Homo sapiens: one gene and its partners. The protein of the gene in region 1 purifies or fractionates together with the protein of each later gene. This does not show direct contact. Each region holds a gene or a part of one and is shown in the gene's direction. Other genes may lie near its edges.

Region 1 (7,027 bases):
TTGTACTGAAGGCCAGGGTGTGTAGAAATGGGTGGTTTGGCTAAAGGAGATGGTGCCTGGAAATAAGATGAAAAAATAAAATTGCAAAGCTTCCTTGCTGATTGCATTAGGATCACTAAAATTGCTAGGTAATGTGGTATTTCACTTCCCTTCATTTGGAACAATGAAATGAGTAATTAGTTCAGTTTGGCAGAATGTTTCACTAAAAAATATGGTGTTAAAGGTACTTTTAATACTTTGAAGTACAAGATATAAGATAACATTACAGACTTAGGTAAGTAAAAAGTTAAGATTTAGGGCCAGGCGTGGTGGCTCATGCCTGTAATCCCAGCACTCTGGGAGGCCAAGGCAGGTGGATCAAGAGGTCAGGAGATCGGGAGCATCCTGGTCAACATGGCGAAACCCCATCTCTACTAAAATACAAAAATTATACGGGTGTGGTGGCGTGTGCCTGTAATCCCAGCTACTTGGGAGGCTGAGGCAGGAGAATCATTTGAACCAGGGAGTCAGAGGTTGCGGTGAGCTGAGGTCGTGCACCTGCACTCCAGCCTGGCAACAGAGTGAGACTGTCTTTAAAAAAAAAAGTTATGATTCAGAAAAAGAGGGAAAAAAGTCTTCTGATGCTAGGTCTTGAAGAGCCAGAGTATCGTGCTAAGGACTTTGGACTTGATTCTAAAGACAATGGAGAGCCAGTGAAGGATTTTAGATATAGGTGTTTAGGAAAGATAAGCTGAAAATGGTTTGGAGGCTGAATTGGATGAAGAGAGACAAAAGGTAGGGAGATAAGTTAGGAGGCTGTTGCTATTGAAATAGTCCAGATAAGGGAGGATAGGGGCCTGGAGTAGGAAAATAGTAATAGGGATGGAGAGGAGAGGATAGATAGTGAAGGTGTAGAATTTGACAGGGCTTTAAAATCAATTGGCTCAAAAGAGGAACAGAAAAGTAAATGACTTAGTTTTTTAGCTTGGAAAACTGTTTGGATGAAGGGTCTTGTTTTATTTTTTAATATTGGAGGAAGATAATTGTTTCCATTTTGAATTCATGTTGAGTTTGAATTGTCTTTGGAGCATTCAAGTGGAGATGTCGAGAGAGGATCTAGAGTCCAGAAGCCAGGCTAAAATTGGTGATTCAGATTTCAGAGGTAGCCAGTAAGTGTTAATTGAAGCCGTAAGAGCAGATGAAATTGCTCAAGGGAGTATGTAGAATTAGAAGAGAAGAGGGCCAAGAATAAATGATTTGCTTTATGTAAGTAGAAGGAATTATTTATCTATGCTAATTTTGTCCAACAAATTATTATTATAAAGCAATGAAATGGATTTTAATTGAAAGTTGAACAACTTTTACATCCAAATGAGTCCTGTTCTTTTAAAATTTCATTTGGAAGTCACTCATTTATTCCAGAAGTACAGATGCTCCTCAATTTTCGATAGGGTTATGTCTGAATAAACCCATCATAAGTTGAAAATATTGTTAGTCAACATGTGATAAACTTACGAAGGGTTTATCCGAATGTAACCCCATCATAAGTTAAGGAGGGTACTGAGCACATACTGCTTTGGCACCATCATAAAGTTGAAAAATTGTTAATTTAAACCATCATTAAGTCAGGGACTGTCTGTATTGCCCAAAGTATTATTGGAGCTTCTCTTTGTAAAAAGCTTTATAGCAAATTCACAGCTACACAAGAACGTAGATCTTCTGGCTTTATTATGGAATTGTTTTTCTGTCTCTTTATTTGCATGGCACATATAACTTATTTACTTTTTTTTTTTTTTTTTCAAGAGACAGGGTCTTGCTCTGCTACCCTGGCTGGAATACAGTGATGCAATCATAGCTCACTGCAGCCTGGACCTCTTGGGCTCAAGGGATCCTCCTGCTTCAGTCTCCTGAGAAACTAGGACTACAGGCATGCACCACCACCCCCTGCTAATTTTTATTTTTTATTTTATTTTTCTTGAGACAGAGTCTCTCTCTGTTGCCCAGGCTGGAGTGCAGTAGTGTGATCTCAGCTCACTGCAACCTCTGCCTCCCAGGTCCAAGTGATTCTCCTGTCTCAGCCTCCCAAGTAGCTGGGACTACAGGCGCACACCACCATGCCTGGGTAATTTTTTGTATTTTTGGTAGAGATGGGGTTTCACCATATTGATCAGGCTGGTCTCGAACTCCTGACCTCAGGTGATCCACCCGCCTTGGCCTCCCAAAGTGCTGGGATTACAGGTGTGAGCCACCACACCCGGCCTGACCCCCTGCTAATTAAAAAACAATTTTTTTTGCCCAGGCACAGTGGCTCACACCTGTAATCCTAGCACTTTGGGAGGCCAAGGCGGTGGGTCACTTCAGTCAGGAGTTTGAGACCCACCTGGCCAACATGGTGAAACCCCATCTCTACTAAAAACACAGAAATTAGCTGGATGTGGTGGCGCGTGTCTGTAGTCCCAGCTCCTTGGGAGACTGAGGCAGGAGAATCACTTGAACCCAGGAGGTGGAGGTTGCAGTGAGCTGAGATTGTGCCATTGTACTCCAGCCTGAGAGACAAGAGCGAAACTCTCCATCTCAAAAAAATTTAAATAAATAAATAAATACATAAATTTTTTTCTTTTGTAGAGATGGGGTTTCACTGTGTTGCCCATTCTGATCTTAAACTTCTGGGCCTAAGCACTCCTTCTGCCTCAGCCTATCCAAGTGTTAGGATTACAGGCATGAGCCACTGTGCCCAGCTTCCGTTCACAATCAATCAAAGCTTCGAAAGCATATTCCTATCCCATCACTGGATCTTTAGTTCTTGGAAGTCATAGACAAAGCTTAAAAAACAACAAAAGACTGTGTCCCCATGCCTATAATCAGCACGTTGGGAGGCCAAGATGGGAAGATCACTTGAGCCCAGGAGTTCTAGACCAGCCTGAGCAACATAAGGAGACCTCGTCTCTACAAAAAATTTTAAAAAATTAGCTGGCATGGTGGCACATGCCTGTGGTCCCAGCCGCTTGGGAGGCTGAGGTGGGAGAATTGCTAGAACCCGGGAGGCAGAGATTGCAGTTAGCCAAGATCGTGCCATTGCACTCCAGCTTGGGTGACAAGACAAAAAAAAAAAAAAAAAAGAATAGCAGTATGGTCTTCTAAGGCAGGGGTTAGCAAATATTCTGTAAAGGGCTAGATAGCAAATATTAATATTTTGTACTTTGTGTGCCATACGGTCTCTGTCATAACTACCCAATTCTGCCAAAAAGCAGCCATAGACAACGCTTCAATGAATAAGCATGGACTGTGTTCCAATAAAACTTTATTTATGGACACTGAAATTTGAATTTCATATAATTTTCACATCACAAAATGTTATACTTATTTGATCTTTCCACCCAACCATTAAAAAATGTAAAAACCACTCTTAACTCAGAGGCCTTGCAAAAACAGGCAGTGGGCCAAATTTGGCCCACAGGTAGGCCATAGTCTGCCAACCTTAACGGATCTTTGAAATATTTGAATTCGTAAGCTTGGTTTAGAAAAAAAAAATCATGGTTCTTCGAAATCATACCTCCTGTTTTTAAATTCTAGTACATTTCTTAAAATAATTAAAACATTTTCATTCATCCCCCATTTCTCATTTAAATGGAAAATACTCCCTTTACTGGTTTGGAACTTTAGATACAGAGAAATAGATTAACTTGTACAGAGTCAGAATAAAAAAGTATGTTTGAAAAATGTTTTTTGATATTCAGTGTTCTTTACTGAATCAATAAAACATTGATCTTTTCGCTTCAGTGAAAGTGGGGACATTGAAACCTGGGTGAAATAAAAGATAAATTTGAAGGGGTATTCTGCACTGGTTCCCAGAGGGTTGGACAGGATGGAATTTTATTCTCTTTTTCTTCTGCCCTGAATGAATAAGTTTTATCCTAAAGAAAAGAAAACATGATAATGTCTTCACTTTATAAGCAGTATAGCAAATTATAAGACTGAAGGATTAAGTAGATGATGATAAGAGAAAAAAATTTAAAGGACTGACTTTTTCACATCTATCTATTCCAGGTATTTACCCATTTTTTTCCTTCCTCCCTTTCCTTTTCCCTCTTCCTTCTTCCTTTTCCTTTTCTTTTCTTGGTCTTTCTCTGTCACCCAGGCTGGAGTGCAGTGGCACAATCATAGTTCACTGCAGCCTCCAACCCCTGGGCTCACACGATCCCTCCACCTCAGCCTCCCAGTTAGCTCGCATTACAGGTGCACGCCACCAAGACTGGCTAATTTTTTAAAAAACTTTTTGTAGAGATGGGGTCTCAATACGTTGTCTAGGTTGGGCTTGAACTCCCGACCTCGGGATCCTCCCATCTCAGCCTCCCAAAGCGCTGGGGGTACGAAGCCATTATGCCTGGCCCCTATTTTTGAGGAATAAATTCAAGATTTTTTTTTTTTTCTTATGAATCTTAGACTTCTGGTTAGTGGCGTGAAAACAGAGTTTTTAGCATTTAGTTCTGGCAATATTAATCCATTTATATTATTTGAAGGTTGTGCTGTACTTTTTAAAGTTAAATGTCTAACTTTCGTAGTTTTCATAGCAGTGATAAATATTTACAACAAAGGATATGGAGAGAAATTATTATTTTTTTTCCTTCAAGTTTGAATTCATAGAAATGACATATTTGCGGATTTTTTGTTTGGATGTTAAAATTCAGGGACAGATTGGTGGGGGAGAGAGAGAGTTATTTTTGCTGCTACTTAAAAGGGATTTGCATTTTTCTCTGTCTTTTTTTCTGTTGGAGTAAAAAACAAAATCTCCCAGCTGTGTGGGATGTGTTTGAATTGGTTACTTAGCAGTGTAAAGCATAATTTTGTATTTAAATATTTATCTGTACTCTTTGATATTCTGATTAAATAAGGATCTATTAAGGCTATAATAATAGAGCCTTCTGTGAGGAAATGACATAGGCTGCTCCACAACAGTATTTACTGAAAATTTCCTTTTCCCTGGGCCCTATTTAAACTATAAGGGGTAATTGGAACAAAAGGGGAAAATTATGTGAATTAGAGTGATGGTCAATTTAATCATGAGTGTAATGTGATAGCTATCAATGTATAGTTTTATTGACATAAATCAGGGTTGAGCAAAGAGTGGGAGAATTTTGTCTGCTGTTGTTAAAAATGGTGAGTCGTTGAACCAAATTTTATTTTTGAACTTTGCATTCGTCAAGTGTGATATTTTCAAGAGTCTGGTGATAATTGTATTTTTAAATCAAATTGGATCAATTTGCCTTTCAAATTTGTTGTTTCATTATTAGAAGAAAAAAACGAAGTAAAAAATACAGAGGTATGTGCAATGACTGGATCTGGAAGAACAAAAATATTGAGGGAAATGGTCACCTGAGAAAAACTATTAAGACTTTCAATGAAGATTATTTAAAATATGGCTTTGTCAAATGGGCAAAATCTGAGTAAAATGACAGACCCATGTCTTCATATAATGTTGCAAATGAAAATTAAAAACCTTTAAAGTTAAAAAGATTCTTGGAAACATAGCATACTGGACTTTTAAATAAGCCCTTTCAAATATTTTCAAAGAAAGAAAAAGAGATAAAGTTATCTCAGTTTCCTATTTATTCAAGAATCATTCCTGAGAAAGATTATTGTCTCATTTAGTTGTGTATCAGTGGCATAAGGGAAAAATGGCTACATATCTCTTGAAAAAAGTATTCATCTATAATTCATGGAAGTTGTGCTCATGATTTTTGATGCTAAATCAGCTGGAAATTAAAAATTATACTTCTTAGTGATGACATAGCTCTATTCTTTACCATTATTGGACATTTCAGCAGTGCTTGCAAGATGGGTAGAGTCTGGTGCAGATTTTGCAATCCAAATCGATGGGGTCGCTGATATTGTAAGTTGTACTGTGCTTTTAGGTAGTGAAGATAATAAGGAGGATTTTCTTTTCTTTTTTTTTTTTTTTTTTTTGAGACGGAGTCTCGCTCTGTCGCCCAGGTGCACAGTGGCACAATACCGGCTCACTGCAACCTCCGCCTCCCGGGTTCAAGCGATTCTCCTGCCTCAACCTCCTGAGTAACTGGGATTACAGGTGCGAGCCACCATGCCCGGCTGATTTTTGTATTTTTAGTAGAGACAGGGTTTCACCATGTTGGTCAGGCTGGTCTCAAACTCCTGACCTTGTGATCTGCCTGCCTCGGCCTCCCAAAGTGCAGGGATTACAGGCATGAGACACCACGCCCGGCAGGATTTTCTTGTTGTTTAAATTTAACCACAGCTGTATGGGTATATTTACAGAATTTTAAAAAATAAATTGTTGATCCTCAGAAATTAAACTGGGAAAAAACTATTAAATAATTATGAGCAATTGAATAGCAAATGTGGTTAGAAAATATAAAGCAGTTATTTTAAGCATTGTTTGAAGCTGCTACTAACAGTGTTCCCTCCCCCTGTCCAGCCTCCCGTGCAAGTCTCACAGTGTGTTTTAATGAGTATCTCCTCAAAGCACCTTCCAACACTCAAGGGGAGGGAGGGAATTAGAGACAGGCAAACTTACAGCCAGTAGTCAAAACAATACAGCTGAAAGTATAGACATCCTCCTGCTTTCTTCTGAATGTCCAGGGCAGCAGGAAAGCTTGGAGCTTTCCCTCCAGCAAAAACAATAGGCTGGGTGTGGGTGAACATACTGTCCAGCAAGTCACTGCTGGGCTCCGTTTCTGTCCTGTTTGTTCTAAGGGCTAAGAATGGTGTTTGAAACTGCTGTTTTATATATTGCAAAGCTTTGGTATGCACAGAAAACTTTCTGAATCTCATGAATATATTGAAAGTTGTTAATTATATTAAAGGAAGCTTGCTGAGTAACCAACATTTTAAAATATTCAGAGTTAACTGTACCTATTTACTATATCACATTGGAGTTTGATAGTTGAGATAAGGAGCTAAGCAGATTTTATGAATCCAGAATTTTTCTAGCTGAGAGGCAATCTCAGTCAGGCATGGTGGCTCATGCCTTTAATCCCAGCACTTGGAAGGCTGAGGCTGGAGTATCACTTGA
Region 2 (6,885 bases), on another chromosome or scaffold:
CTGTATGCATTTGAGAGGGGCTCTACAATTTGTGAGAGCATTTTTTTTAAACTGGAAAAGACAATGTTACTAAGTCACATAGGCTCCTGTCACTAATGATGTGTACATTTGCCCATCAGAAATGCAGTGTCATACACCAACTAATTTTTTGAGAAATAGTGATGTTAAGAGCATTGTGTGTGACAATAATAATACTTCTAATAAGGCAGAATAAAAAGATCTCGCCCTCTAAGGGCTTAATCTGAACTTCATTTTTTGGCTGTCAGAAGAGTATTTTAGAAAATTAAGTCAAAAATTAAGTAGGTTCAAATGCTTGTTTCTTTTTGTTTATTTGTTTTGGGTTTTTTAAAATTTTTATCTGTTTAAGATGACAGAGTCTCGTTCCATTGCCCAGGCTGGAGTGCAGTGGCACAACCTTGGCTCACTGCAACCTCTGCCTCCTGGCTTCAAACAATTCTCGTGCCTCAGCCTCCCTAGTACCTGCTGGGATTACAGGTGCACACCACCACACCCAGCTAATTTTTCTATTTTTAGTAGAGATGGGGTTTAATCATGTTGGCCAGGCTGGTCTCGAACTCCAGGTGAAATGCCCACCTGGGCCTCCTAAAGTGCTGAGATTACAGGCTGAGCTACCAGGCCTGGCTCCTCATATGGGTTTTAAATGTATATCTAATTCTTATTTCTTCTTTGCTTCTCTTTTTGATGACTGAATCATCTAAGTGAAATAAGACAGACACATTGTGCAAATATTGTATAATTTCATTTATATGAGATACCTACATTGTCAAATTCATAGAGACAGAAAGTACAATGGTTACCAGGAGCTGGGAGGAGGGGAAACCAAGAAGAAACACTTGGTTTCTGTTTAGTCATCTCTTACCAGGCTTGAACTTAACCTCAGATCAGCTGAGTCTGGGTGGTCTAAATCTACATAATTAATTGAAAAGTAATAATAGCTTGACAATAACACTTACTGAGTACATACGAAGTGCCAGGCTTAAGTGTCAGACATGATCTACGTCAAGAAACAGTTTTAGGCAGATTTACAAATGCCATATTAGTTTACTATCCTCTACTATCTATTTGCTCTCAAAAGCAAGTAAACAAAGCCCACATATCCCATTCCAGAATCAGGAAAACAAAGAGACATTTCTCTGTGCCAAAGAGCCTGTCAGCCAATAATATTTGCGAAGCTTACCACGCAGCTTACGGTGTCATGTGTTATGAAGTGGAAATTTCTGGACAGGCTATATTTCAATCCATTACATTTGTTTATGAAAACAGGCTTGCAGGTATTGCTGATCTTTTATATAGAAAGTCTATTCTCTAGGAAAGAATCTGGTTCAGTTAATTATGATGGAGAGAATCATGCATGGAAACAACAGTTCAAAACCGACAGTAAACCCACCTCAAAGCAAAAGCATTTCTGGTTTTTCTCAAGTAGCTGTGTTAATGTGGCATAAGAGAAAGCCTGACTAGCAGGTATAATTAAAGTATGAATCATAGGAATAAGCATGAGTAACTATGAAAACACCTACAAGAAATAAGCCCATTATAACATGATAAACTTTAGGGAATCATGAGTGAAGGGTAGGAGAAAAAATCCTAATTCCATGTAAATGCAATGATGGGCCTGAGTGGAAACATATTGATAAACAATAGCATCAATGTATTATTAGTACAGCATCTGTGTGAGGCTGTGGAACACAGCATATTCTGCCTTATGCTTTATGGGTACTTATTTTCCACATTTCCTTTTTCTGAGAACTGCTTGAGGTCACGGATAATGCTTCTGTCTTTTTATAGAAATCACTTCCCCACCCAGACCTTAGTAATGTAGACAGTAGACATAAAACATATCATTACATACATGAATGGGCAAATGATAACCTGTATCATAGAATGTACAATACATCTGCCCTGGCATGTAACACTTTTAAAGAAAACTAAACATTGACATCCAACATATTAAATGCAACTTATGAAACACCAATGATGCATTTTTAAAGACTTAATCACAGTACGATGATTTAATGAAAAACAAGAAGAGAATGTTATATTTTATCGTTTCGTATCTCAGCAGTTTGGCACTGGATTCAGTTGATAGGAACAGCAACATGGCAAAAGTTGAAAGGAAACTGTTTGGCCTGGGTGATTTTTTGTCTTTCAGGCAGAGTAATGAGTAAATACAAAATCACCTCTGGTGAGACACAGTCCACTGGTGTTTATGTCATGTCATTTCATTAACTGACAAACAGAATTACTGCCTCTCCCTTCCCCAAACCTGCAAAAGAAAAAAAAAATTGAAGAGTATTTAGTTAACAAAAACAAATTTAACACTTGGAGTTAAAATGGCTCTAATAGTGACTGGTCATTTTGCCAATATGGGGCCAAAGATGTGAATATGGATGGAAGGTGTTTTGAGATGGAGTCGTTCTGTCACTCAGGCTGGAGTGCGGTGGAGTAATCTCGTAATCTCGGCTCATGGCAATCGCCGCCTCCCGGATTCCAGTGACTCTCCTGCCTCAGCCTCCCAAGTAGCTGGGACTACAGGCGTGCGCCACCAGGCCCAGCTAATTTTTGTATTTTTTAGTAGAAACTGGGTTTCACCGTGTTGGCCAGTATGGTCTCCAACTCCTGACCTCAAGTGATTCTCCTGCATCAGCCTCCCAGAATGCTGGTATTACAGGCGTTAAGTCACTGCGCCTGGCCCATACTGTTTACATTATCTTATCTGTTTTAGGTTTACATGTTATTTTTAATGTTCCTGTACATTTAAAAAATTGAAACCAAGAATCTTGACTGGCTCTGAAACTTAATTGGGAAAAATGTAAAGCACTTTAGTGGAATTTTTCCCATGATCTGTAGAATAGTTTTTAAACAGATGGTTCATATGGACAAAGCAATGAAAATGCAGAAATTAAAAGCAGATCCTTAAGAACAATATCCGAGTTCTCAGAAATCCTATAGATGATGTCAGGACGAGATGTAAAGCAGTCGTTTCTTTTGCTGTCAAGGTTTTAAGAGAACAGAAATTTATTAGGTGAACCTCCACCGGAGGAAGGATAAAGCCTGTGGGTAGGAGTTAACTATTTATTTCAAACTCCAGTCCACTTCAACAATTTGAAAATTTTCCCGCTCCTAGGACAATTCCATCCAGGTGCCAATAGGAGATACTACTATTGTGATGCAAATAGGTATTCTACTAGAAGTAGGAGCACGTAAGCAGAGTGAGGATGACTTGAAAAATCGTCCCACCTTCCCAGCTATGGAGTGGGGGCAGGGGGAAGAAACACCTCCAGGCTGGATCATTGAAGCTGAGGGGTGGGAGAGCGACGGGACAATTTTTCAACGTGGAATTCAAATGCATTCGGTGGGGAAGTGTGAAGTAAAATCTAAACGAACGCTAGACAGTAGTATCTTCCATCTACGCTTCAAAATACTCAGACTTTAGGGAAACTTAACGTTGGTTTTTCTCCCAGAGAATTGTAGGGAGTGGGTGGAGGGGACACTGTTAGGGGAGGTATATTGGGAGTCAGATCCTTTTGTGGAGCGAGGGACCCCGAAGTGTCACCAAGGGCTAGCCGAAACCAGGGGCCCAAGAGGGGACAGGGCTAACACCCCAGCCAAGGCCGGAGCGCAAGCGCGGGGCTGCAGCGCGGGGAGCCCTGGAGCCCAGTGCGGGCGGACGGGTGGGGCAGGAGGGCAAAGGGGCGAAGGGGCGGGGTGGCGCTGGGTGGGAGCGCGGCGGCGGGGAGGAGGGTCTGGGAGCCCGGGTGCGATTTGCAAGCGCTCTGAGCCTGCGTCCGCCGAGGGGGAGGGTTTCCCCAGCCCGGCCGGAGTTGCGGCTGTGCGCTGCTTCTGGCTCACAACGCCGACGACTGTCAAGAGAGTTGGGGAGTGGAACTGCCGGAAGTGTCTGCGCGCCGTGAGAGAAACTTTCCTGCTCCGGCCGCGGCCCGGAGCCTCGCCGCCCCCGCGTTCCGAACGACGATGCGTCCAGATGACAACAACCTGAGGGGACTCGCGCCTCGGCCCGCCGCCCGCGCCTGCGCTCGCCTAGCCTCGGGGGAGGAAGACTGAGCCCGGCGCAGGCGGCGCGGCGCTCGGGGCCCGTTTCCTCCGCGCAATCAGTCCCCTCGCGTCCCGGCGCCTTCCCCGCGATCGCGCGACCCCAGCGCCCGCCGCGGCCGCCGGCTGCCCCCGCCCTGACCTCCGGCCCGGACGTGTCCGCGGCCGCCGCTGGCAGCGCCTGTGCCATGGGGCTGCCCACTCTGGAGTTCAGCGATTCCTACTTGGACAGCCCAGATTTCAGGGAGCGCTTGCAGTGTCACGAGATTGAGCTGGAGCGAACCAACAAGTTCATCAAGGAGCTCATTAAGGACGGCTCTCTGCTCATTGGGGCGTTGAGGAGTAAGTAGGGCTGGCGGGGGAGTGGACACCCGCATCTGGAGAGTCCCCGCGGGGTGCGGGTCCGAAGGGTGGGTTGGAGGAGTCGGAGCTTCTTTTGTTTGAATGGATTTGGGGACAAAAGCTGAAGAGCTCCCCTGCTGGTGGCCAACAAAGTTTGTTCTTGAGGTGTTCTTTACTTACTCACATGTCTACAGGGATGGGGAAAGTTCTCTACAGGGCACTGGAATATATCCTGAGGAAAGTCGTTCAAAGTCATCTCGTTGTGTAATGCTCCTAGGAAGATGTTGGGGACTTTAATTTTTTTTTTTTAATTTATTGTGTCTATTAATAGTTTGAACTAAAAAAGCCCTTAAGGGGGGAATCAAGAGTTTGTCTTAAAGATAAAATTAGGCTAGTTTAGTGATATTGAAAGAAAATTATTAATGTCTCTCATACGTCAGTGGCTCTTCATTGGACACAGTCATTGAGTTGGCTTTTTAAAAAGCATACATTTGCAGTTTTGCCATTTTGTAAGATAATGGAAGACAGCAAGGCACCAGTGCATTTTAACTCTGCAAGTTTTCTGTGCGTCTTAGTTTTGGTTTGCATTGTGTGGGTGTTGGGTGTGTCATTGGGATGAAAGTTAAGGGGTTAAAGGCCAATCAGAACTTTTGATGATCTGTAGAATATAAAGACTGTTATAGTCTATAATATAGGGCTTCTTCCACCTCCTTTCCCATACACCTCTTGATCAAATTTTCCTTCCTCCTTTTATCCTCTGGATCTTAGCTTTCAATTCCTAAGACCTAAGAGTATCTGAAACTGAAGAGTTTCTCTTACAGAGAATTGAGCACAATTACATGATATGGCTTGTTACCTTTCCCAGGAGGTATTTGCATCTTTTAAAAAATTTATTTTTATTTATTTATGTATTTATTTATTTTCCATCTTCAAAGGAGCCTGTGAAAAGTATTTGCATCTTAATAGAGGCTTCTGGATGTTTTAGCTACTGAAATGAAGCCGTGGAATCTCTGGTCACTTAAAGCTGGGTGAGTGAGGTACTTTCAAAAGGTAGAGAGACCTTTGGGTGATCTAGTTACCCCCAGGACATATATGGGGGCATCATCTTTGTATAACAACATGATAGGGATGTGTGCGCCTAAAACTGAGACAATACTAGTATCGGATCTATATTTTGAAACATGTATTAACAGTAAGGAGAGAGCTTAGCAAGATGTCTTGAAATTAATGTGCTCCAAAATATCTTTTAATCATCCCAAATGTTAAAACATTTACTTAACCACTTGTGTTACTTAACCAAGGTAAAGATAATATATTTTATGCCCATATTCACTTAATTTCTGAATTTGAGGCTACTACTAATAATGGTATTTACTGTGATTTGTGAAAAATATAGTTTGTCTGCAATTCTTGCCACCCTACATAAACACTAATGTGAACTGTCCTTCCTCTGGCTTGCAAATCCTGGTTAAAGTCTCGCGGGACTAACCTCTTTGCATCTAAGAGAGCATGATGCCTCTTCAAAAAGAGCTGCATCTCAGAGTGTCAAATGCCAAGCCAGTTCTTGTTGGAGGTGCCAGATATTCTACATTTTTCTCCCCGCTCTGCTTGAGATAAACTTTAGTGTTTCAGAAGGTCAAAATACTTACATACCTGTGATAAATGCTCTGACATGTACATTATATTACGAGTGACATTACATACTTTATTATGATGGTTGAATCTAGCTTTGTAAAAGTCAGGTGATTCCCATCATTATAGTTTTGTTCTTCCATTCATAAGTGAAGAAATCTTGGGAGCGTAGGCTCTTTGAAGATATAGGCCCTGCATCATTAATTTGGCTTATGCACTTAATTATACAACCTGCTATCTTTCTAGGATTCTTAAGTTTGTGGTGAGAGTGTATTACTTTAACTAACGTTTGATTATTACTTCTTTCATTGTGAAAAGGAAAAGATTTTATTCCTTGGTAAAAGGATTCCTAACAGCAGCTGCCAAATGGGAGGGATTTTGGAGCAAAGGAACCCTTGAAGTCACACTGTAGCACTGATTTTTTTCGTACCAAGCCACCTTTTGTCCCTTAGGAAGGATGCTCTGAGGCTGGGCTGCAGCTGCTTGGATAGGAGGAGTGTGTCAGAAAGGATTTGAAGCCTGCTTGGTTCTATCACTGGCTGCCCCTGCCCTGACCACTAGCCCAGACATGTCCCCTGGCATAGCTGGCAGTGCTTGTACCATGGGGCTGACCATTCCACTGTGGGAGCGTCCCTGTACCATAAGTCTGCCCACTCCACTAAGGGAGTCCTTCTTCCCCCAGTCTGTCTTTTCTGTTTTTCTTTCCTGCCTGGGGAGGACTTCACCTTCCCTAACTTTATATAGACTATTTCAATAGATGTATCCATTACCCGTTTCAGTTTTTTTAGCACGGCACTGTTATTTTTATTAATAATTAATGCATTCTTAATGTAACCTTAT
Region 3 (7,027 bases), on another chromosome or scaffold:
CTGCGTTCGGATGGCTGGGCACAGACACCCATTGTCTTTGCTTGCCCAGGGGTGTGGGGCTCAGACACAGGAGGGCTGGCCCTCTTGCTTCCTGTGGTGGCATGGACTTCACCTTGAGTCTTCTCTGCCCACCCCCAAACCCGGGGCACCCAATCCCCTGCCCCTCCCTCCCTTTCTCCCTGTCCCAAACTGGACTGAGCAAGTGAAAGAACCAGTCTGAGATGGAAGAAAAATGAGCTTTCAAGAGGCCTAAGAATATTCACTCCTGCTCTTGTGCATGAGGGCCAGGCCATTTTGAGGACCTGTCTTTAGGAGAACTGGCGGTCTCTGCCCCTGGGACTGTGTGAGGCTCGAGGTGGCCAGGTTCTGACCCAGGCTGCTGTTCACCTCTCGACCCCCTAACCCGGCTTCTTCCTGGCCTGTCCCCAGGACTCGGCAGAGGACGTCCACTCCCTGGACAGCTGTGAATACATCTGGGAGGCTGGTGTGGGCTTCGCTCACTCCCCCCAGCCTAACTACATCCACGATATGAACCGGTGAGCTTCGCCCAGGCCCGGAGCCCTCAATGCAGCTGGACCCCGGGCCGGGCCCCCGCACAGCTCAGAAAGCCCATGGGGTCTTCCCAGAAGACCGTCCTCACCTATGACCCGACCTTGACCTTACAGGGGTCAACGGGAGTAACTTCCTTCCATGGACCTGGGCTGGGGCGCTGGGCTGGGTGGGCAGAACCTCCAAGAGGGGACTGGGATCCTAAGGTGCCCTCCCCCTTCCTCCTACAAGGATGGAGCTGCTGAAACTGCTGCTGACATGCTTCTCCGAGGCCATGTACCTGCCCCCAGCTCCGGAAAGTGGCAGCACCAACCCATGGGTTCAGTTCTTTTGTTCCACGGAGAACAGGTGAAGGGCCCTTGGCCTTTCTGCGCTCTCTTCCCTCTTATTCCAGGCAATCCAGAGCTGAGTCCATTCGCCAGCTCTGGGTCTCGTTTGAGGGGAGGTGCTGCCCCCTGGTGGTGATGAACTTTAACTTACCAGCCACACCTCACACTAGCCCCGTCTCTCCTTGGAGTCCTCGACAGGACAGAATCTGGGGGCCCCTCAGTAATCCGTCCCTGGGTCCTCCATCAAGAGCCGCCTGTCCAGTAGAAATAGAATGCAAACCACGAGTGCAATTTTAAAATTAAAAAAGTTAAAAAGTAAAATTGGGCCAGGCGCGGTGGCTCACACCTGTAATCCCAGCACTTTGGGAGGCCAACGTGGGCAGATTACCTGAGGTCAGGAGTTTCAGACCAGCCTGGCCAACATGGTGAAACCGTATCTCTACTAAAAATACAAAAATTAGCCAGGCTTGGTGGCGGGTGCCTGTAATCCCAGCTACTCGGGAGGCTGAGGCACGAGAATCGCTTGAACCCGGGAGGCGGAGGTTGCAGTGAGCCGAGATTGCGCCACTGCGCTCCAGCCTGGGTGACAGAGTGAGACTCTGTTTCCAAAAAAAAAAATAAATAAATACAATAATTAATAATATATTTCATATAACCCAATATACCCCAAACTTTAGCATTTAACATGGAATCAGTATACAACATTACTGAGCTGTTTGACATCCCCCTTTTCATACTAAGTTTTCAAAATCCAGTGTGTATTTGTCTTGGTTCCGATCAGCCACATTCCAAGGGCTCGACAGCTCCTTGTGGCTTGAGGCTGCTGTGTGGGACTCTGCAGCTTAGAGACCGGGTCGGGGAGTGTGTGACAAATACCTCGAAGGGCAGGGAGGCCCAGCCCACATGGGGCACTCATGGACTGTGGGGGACACGTGAGCACGGGGTGGGGGGAGGGTGTCACACGTGCCACGTGGCAGAGTTGAGTATTTGAGCAGGTAGCTCCCACTGGGAGCTGTGTTGGCTGCATAGGGTCTGTGCCCGGCAGGTGGCGGTCGACCTCCGCCTTCCAGACTCTGGTCCCTACATGACACGCCTTATTCTTCAGGTTTCCTAGCCTTCTGTTCAACCTTCCACCCTACTCCAGAAGAGAAGGGAGCCAGGCGACCCCCTCCACCAGCCACAGTCCGAGGCTGGCCAGAGTTTTCTTTCTCACCAGCCTTATCAGGCAAACTGCCACCCTTTGTCCCTCACTTAACCTCTCTGGGTCTCAGCTTCCTCATCTGTAAGCTGAGCAGCTTGAACCCTGACATCTCTTGAGTCTGAGTGGAGTCATTCTGTGGCTTGGGAGCTGGTTGGCTGAGCGTGGGCTCTGCTCCCTGAGGGGAAGCCCACCTTCTCCACAGGCCTCCATTCCCATCTCTGAGGACCCAAGGGAGGGTATCTGCCCCTTAAGACCCTAAGGGGTATGAATGTGTCCTAATCATGGCTCTGGGCTTCCCACACCCACTCTTTCCAAGCCACTCCCTGACGTGGTGCTAAAATGCTTGTTGAATGAGGCTGACCTTCCCACGTGGCCAGAGAGGTGTGGCCAGGGGGCTGGGCCCCAGTGCAGCCTCTGCAGCCTTGTCCCTCTCCTGCTGCAGACATGCCCTGCCCCTCTTCACCTCCCTCCTCAACACCGTGTGTGCCTATGACCCTGTGGGCTACGGGATCCCCTACAACCACCTGCTCTTCTCTGACTACCGGGAACCCCTGGTGGAGGAGGCTGCCCAGGTGCTCATTGTCACTTTGGACCACGACAGTGCCAGCAGTGCCAGCCCCACTGTGGACGGCACCACCACTGGCACCGCCATGGATGATGCCGATGTAAGGATGGGAGCATGGAAGGGACAGCTGCCGGGGCCACGGGTTGTGGGGAGGACGCCTGCTCACCAGGGGCTTCTCCTCTTGGCAGCCTCCAGGCCCTGAGAACCTGTTTGTGAACTACCTGTCCCGCATCCATCGTGAGGAGGCAAGTCCAGTCCCCACAGTGGCTTTGCAGGGTGCAGGGGGATGCAAGTGAGACAGGGATATGGGGGATCCTGACCCCTCCATGAAGGAACCATGCTCTCTGTGGGCTGGGGCCACCCTAGGTGAAATAGTGGCAGGACTGTGAGGGTTTCAAGATGCAGGAAGGGCTGATGGCCTCACCTGGGTAGAGGTAACTGGGAAGGCCTCTAGGAGGAGGTGGCTGATGTCATTTCAGAGGTGGTGGGGACAAAAGGGGAATGACAGTGGACAAGGGCTTCAGGCCAAGCAGTCCCAGTTCATGTGTCTTGTGATCTTGGTGGGAAGGTGCTTGAACTCCCAGAGTTCTAACTTCTGCAGCTAAAACACAGGACCCTAGCTGCCTTCTCACCCCAGCTAGTGGCAGGCCTCAGTAAATGACAGAACAGTGGAATGCTCCTCGAGTTGTGATGGGGTGATGGGGGAGTATTTTGGGGAGGGGTAGAAGGATGGAACCTGCCAACCATGAGTCCAAGGTGGGCAGGGACAAGGTTGAGGGTGTGCATGTGTGGGAGTTCACTGAGAGCAGCAGCCTTGCTCAAGGGGCGCACAGCCCAAGGACAGAGAGTCTGCAGTCTAGTGGAGGGGCCAGGGCTGTCCACAGCTATGAGGGACTCCGCTTCCTGAGGCATCGCCCCAGGACAGCTATGGGTGATAGCATCTGGGCCCTCTGGCTCTGGAGGTGGGATCTGGCTCTGGGGGATGGAGGGGGGGATTTGTTGGGGGCCTGGGCTGGGAAACTGGAGCTGCAGGGATTGGGCTGGACAGGCCCCCTGCTCTGCCCTCGCCCCCAGGACTTCCAGTTCATCCTCAAGGGTATAGCCCGGCTGCTGTCCAACCCCCTGCTCCAGACCTACCTGCCTAACTCCACCAAGAAGATCCAGTTCCACCAGGAGCTGCTAGTTCTCTTCTGGAAGCTCTGCGACTTCAACAAGGTGGGCCAGCCTCGAGGGGCCCTGCAGGGAGATGGAGAGCAGCTGCCCCAATAACCCGGGGGCAGGGACAGTGTCAGACTGAGGGGGGTGGGGCAGAGCTGCCCCTCCCTTGAACTCAGCCCACTTGGCCCCTCCCCGCACCCCTAGAAATTCCTCTTCTTCGTGCTGAAGAGCAGCGACGTCCTAGACATCCTTGTCCCCATCCTCTTCTTCCTCAACGATGCCCGGGCCGATCAGTGTAAGACCAGGGTGGGGGTGGGATGCTGGGGGCTTTCCTGGCGGCGAGGTGGAGGGCTGGCTATCTGCCCTGACTCCCAGGAGCTCAGGCCTGGCACTCTGACCTCCTAGGAGGGAGGCCTCCAAAATGGTCACTGCCTGGGCCCCTCCTTCCCCCTCCCACCCGAGTGACCCCTCCCACGCCACCTGCCGCAGCTCGGGTGGGCCTGATGCACATTGGTGTCTTCATCTTGCTGCTTCTGAGCGGGGAGCGGAACTTCGGGGTGCGGCTGAACAAACCCTACTCAATCCGCGTGCCCATGGACATCCCAGTCTTCACAGGGACCCACGCCGACCTGCTCATTGTGGTGAGGGGGCTCGTGCGGCCGGGCCCAGGAGGTGCAGGGGTGGTGTCCTCTTGGCTGAGTCTGGAGGCAGCGGGGACCCCACGGTGCCTCTGTCCCTCCTGGCACAGGTGTTCCACAAGATCATCACCAGCGGGCACCAGCGGTTGCAGCCCCTCTTCGACTGCCTGCTCACCATCGTGGTCAACGGTAGGGGCCCGGAGCTTGCACTCCCCGCGCTCACCACCAGGTGGTGTCAGGCCACAGGCCAACCTGCCACTTGCTCCAGGTTTCAAGCCCCTCCAGCCCACAGAAAGAACGCAAGCTTGTGTACCCTTCATAGTAGCCACATTAAAAAAAAAGGGTGACAACAATTGAATAATATGTTTTATCTATCATCATCTCAACATGTAGCCAATATGAAAATTACTAATGAGATATTTAATATTCCCTTCTCACACTCAGTCTTGTCGCCCAGGCTGGAGTGCAGTGGCACCATCTCAGCTCACTGCAACCTCCGCCCCTTGGGTTCAAGCAATTCTCATGCCTCAGCCTCCTGAGTAGGTGGGATTACAGGCGTGTGCCACCACACCTGGCTAATTTTTGTATCTTTAGTAGAGACGGGGTTTTGCCATGTTGTCCAGGCTGGTCTCGAACTCCTGACCTCAGATGATATGCCCACCTCAGCCTCCCAAAGTGCTGGGATTACAGGCATGAGCCACTGCATCTGGCCTTTTTTTAAAAAAAAAAAATTTAACAATTTTTTTTGACATCTGAAGGAGGTTAGCCCAGTTTATGGGAGCCACTGGTAGTCCGATAACATTTTTACTTTATTTATTTATTTATTTTATTTTATTTTATTTTTTATTTTTAAGACAGAGTCTCACTCTCTGTTGCTCAGGCTAGAGTGCAGTGGCACAATCTCCATTCACTGCAACCTCCCAGGTTAAGTGATCCTCATGCCTCAGCCTCCCAAGTAGCTGGGATCACAGCATGTGCCACCACAACTGGCTAATTTTTTTTTTTTTTTTGTATTTTTAGTAGAGACAGAGTTTTGCCATGTTGGCCAGGCTGGTCTTGAAGTCCTGGCCTCAAGCAATCTGCCTGCCTTGGCCTCCCAAAGCGCTGGGGTTACAGGTGTGAACCACCACACCCGGCCATATTTCATTTTATTTCTAATTATAGTGACGGGATCTCACTATGTTTCCCAGGCTTGTCCTGAACTCCTGAGCTCAAATGATCCTCCTGCCTCAGCCTCCCAAAGTGCTGGGATTATACAGGCGTGAGCCACTGTGTCTGGCCTCTTGTGTGTTTCATATGTGCAGCACACGTGTTAGGACTAGCTGTGTTTCAAGCACGAAATGGCCACACGTGGCTGATGTCCACTGTGTTGGGCAGTGCAGGTTTGGACATTTGGAGTCACAGTGTATGGGGATGTGGAGGCCCCACCCTTTCTGCCTTTGTCCTCCCTGTCCAGCCCCTACCCCCACCCAGCAAGGACTGCACACAGCTGCTGGGGAGAGGAAGCAGAAGGAGCCAGGCTCCCTGGGGTTCAGGACCTAGCAAGGCAGGTGGCCATGGGCTGGGGCAAAATGCCTTCAGTGTGAACATCTTTTGGAGAGGATGGTTGTGGCTAGGGGTGGCTGGTCTGTCTGTGTTCTGGTTTAGACTGCAGGGTGGGTAGTGTGCGGTGGTAGAGGCCTCTAGCTGGGCTGTGAGCTTTGGGGTCAGGACTGTCCCTTCCCCTCCTGGTTCACTCTCTGGCTCCATCTCACAAATCTTAACTGAGCTGGTTCCGAGAACACACTTGTGACCAAGACAGCCCTGGTCCCTGCCCTGTGGAGCCCTCAGCCTAGTGAGGGAAAATGACACAAGACAAGGAAGTGTTCAGATCAGCATGGAACTTCAGTCTGGGTGTGCCCCCAGGGTTGGGTCCCAAAATACACCTCTAGTGACATGGCAGCTTGACGTTCTAGAAAGATTTAAAGTCTTGAGTTTGTATCCCTGCCCGATCATTTCATTACTGGGGAACTTGGGCCAAGTTTACAACCTTCTCTGAGCCTCAGTTTCCATGTCTGTAAAATGGGGATGATCTTGTCTGTGTCCTGCCTCCCTCGTGGTATGGGGGGGACTGGCATGGGTGGGATGTGTATGGCTTTATAAGCAGGACAGCTGTCTTCATGGTCGAGGGGTGAGGGTGGGGCCTAACTGCCTCCCAGGACTCTGCACACAGTATGGCCAGTGTGGACTCAGCCTCTTAGGGCCTTGGTCGTCCTGGCTCTGCAGGGGGCAGGGAGGGATTGAGAGCAGGAGCCTGTTGTTCCACCCCGGCCCAGGATGTGCAGGGATGGCTTGGCTGAGGGGCCCAGGAGTGAGCTGACCCCTCCCTTACAGTGTCCCCCTACCTCAAGAGCCTGTCCATGGTGACTGCCAACAAGTTGCTGCACCTGCTGGAGGCCTTCTCCACCACCTGGTTCCTCTTCTCTGCCGCCCAGAACCACCACCTGGTCTTCTTCCTCCTGGAGGTCTTCAACAACATCATCCAGTACCAGTTTGATGGTGAGGCACCAGCCTGAGGCCCTGGTGGTCAGGGTGGCCAGCGGGCCTA

What was found. The genes of interacting proteins can lie anywhere in the genome.
Region 2: the proteins of DENND2C (region 1) and ARHGAP42 purify together in Homo sapiens (affinity purification with mass spectrometry; 2 studies listed by BioGRID and IntAct, with this or other methods). This does not show direct contact.
Region 3: the proteins of DENND2C (region 1) and HID1 purify together in Homo sapiens (affinity purification with mass spectrometry; 2 studies listed by BioGRID and IntAct, with this or other methods). This does not show direct contact.

Annotation. Positions count from the first base shown.
Region 1 is NC_000001.11:114,660,023-114,667,049, reverse strand, and holds part of DENND2C (DENN domain-containing protein 2C), read left to right. Parts: intron 1-7,027. UniProt on the Homo sapiens protein: Guanine nucleotide exchange factor (GEF) which may activate RAB9A and RAB9B. Promotes the exchange of GDP to GTP, converting inactive GDP-bound Rab proteins into their active GTP-bound form.
Region 2 is NC_000011.10:100,683,420-100,690,304, forward strand, and holds the start of ARHGAP42 (rho GTPase-activating protein 42), read left to right. Parts: upstream 1-3,868; 5' UTR 3,869-4,259; coding exon 4,260-4,413; exon of another isoform or gene 4,414-4,536; intron 4,537-6,885. UniProt on the Homo sapiens protein: May influence blood pressure by functioning as a GTPase-activating protein for RHOA in vascular smooth muscle.
Region 3 is NC_000017.11:74,955,743-74,962,769, reverse strand, and holds part of HID1 (protein HID1), read left to right. Parts: intron 1-429; coding exon 430-536; intron 537-780; coding exon 781-897; intron 898-2,521; coding exon 2,522-2,744; intron 2,745-2,832; coding exon 2,833-2,889; intron 2,890-3,718; coding exon 3,719-3,859; intron 3,860-4,006; coding exon 4,007-4,097; intron 4,098-4,291; coding exon 4,292-4,443; intron 4,444-4,550; coding exon 4,551-4,629; intron 4,630-6,813; coding exon 6,814-6,978; intron 6,979-7,027. UniProt on the Homo sapiens protein: May play an important role in the development of cancers in a broad range of tissues.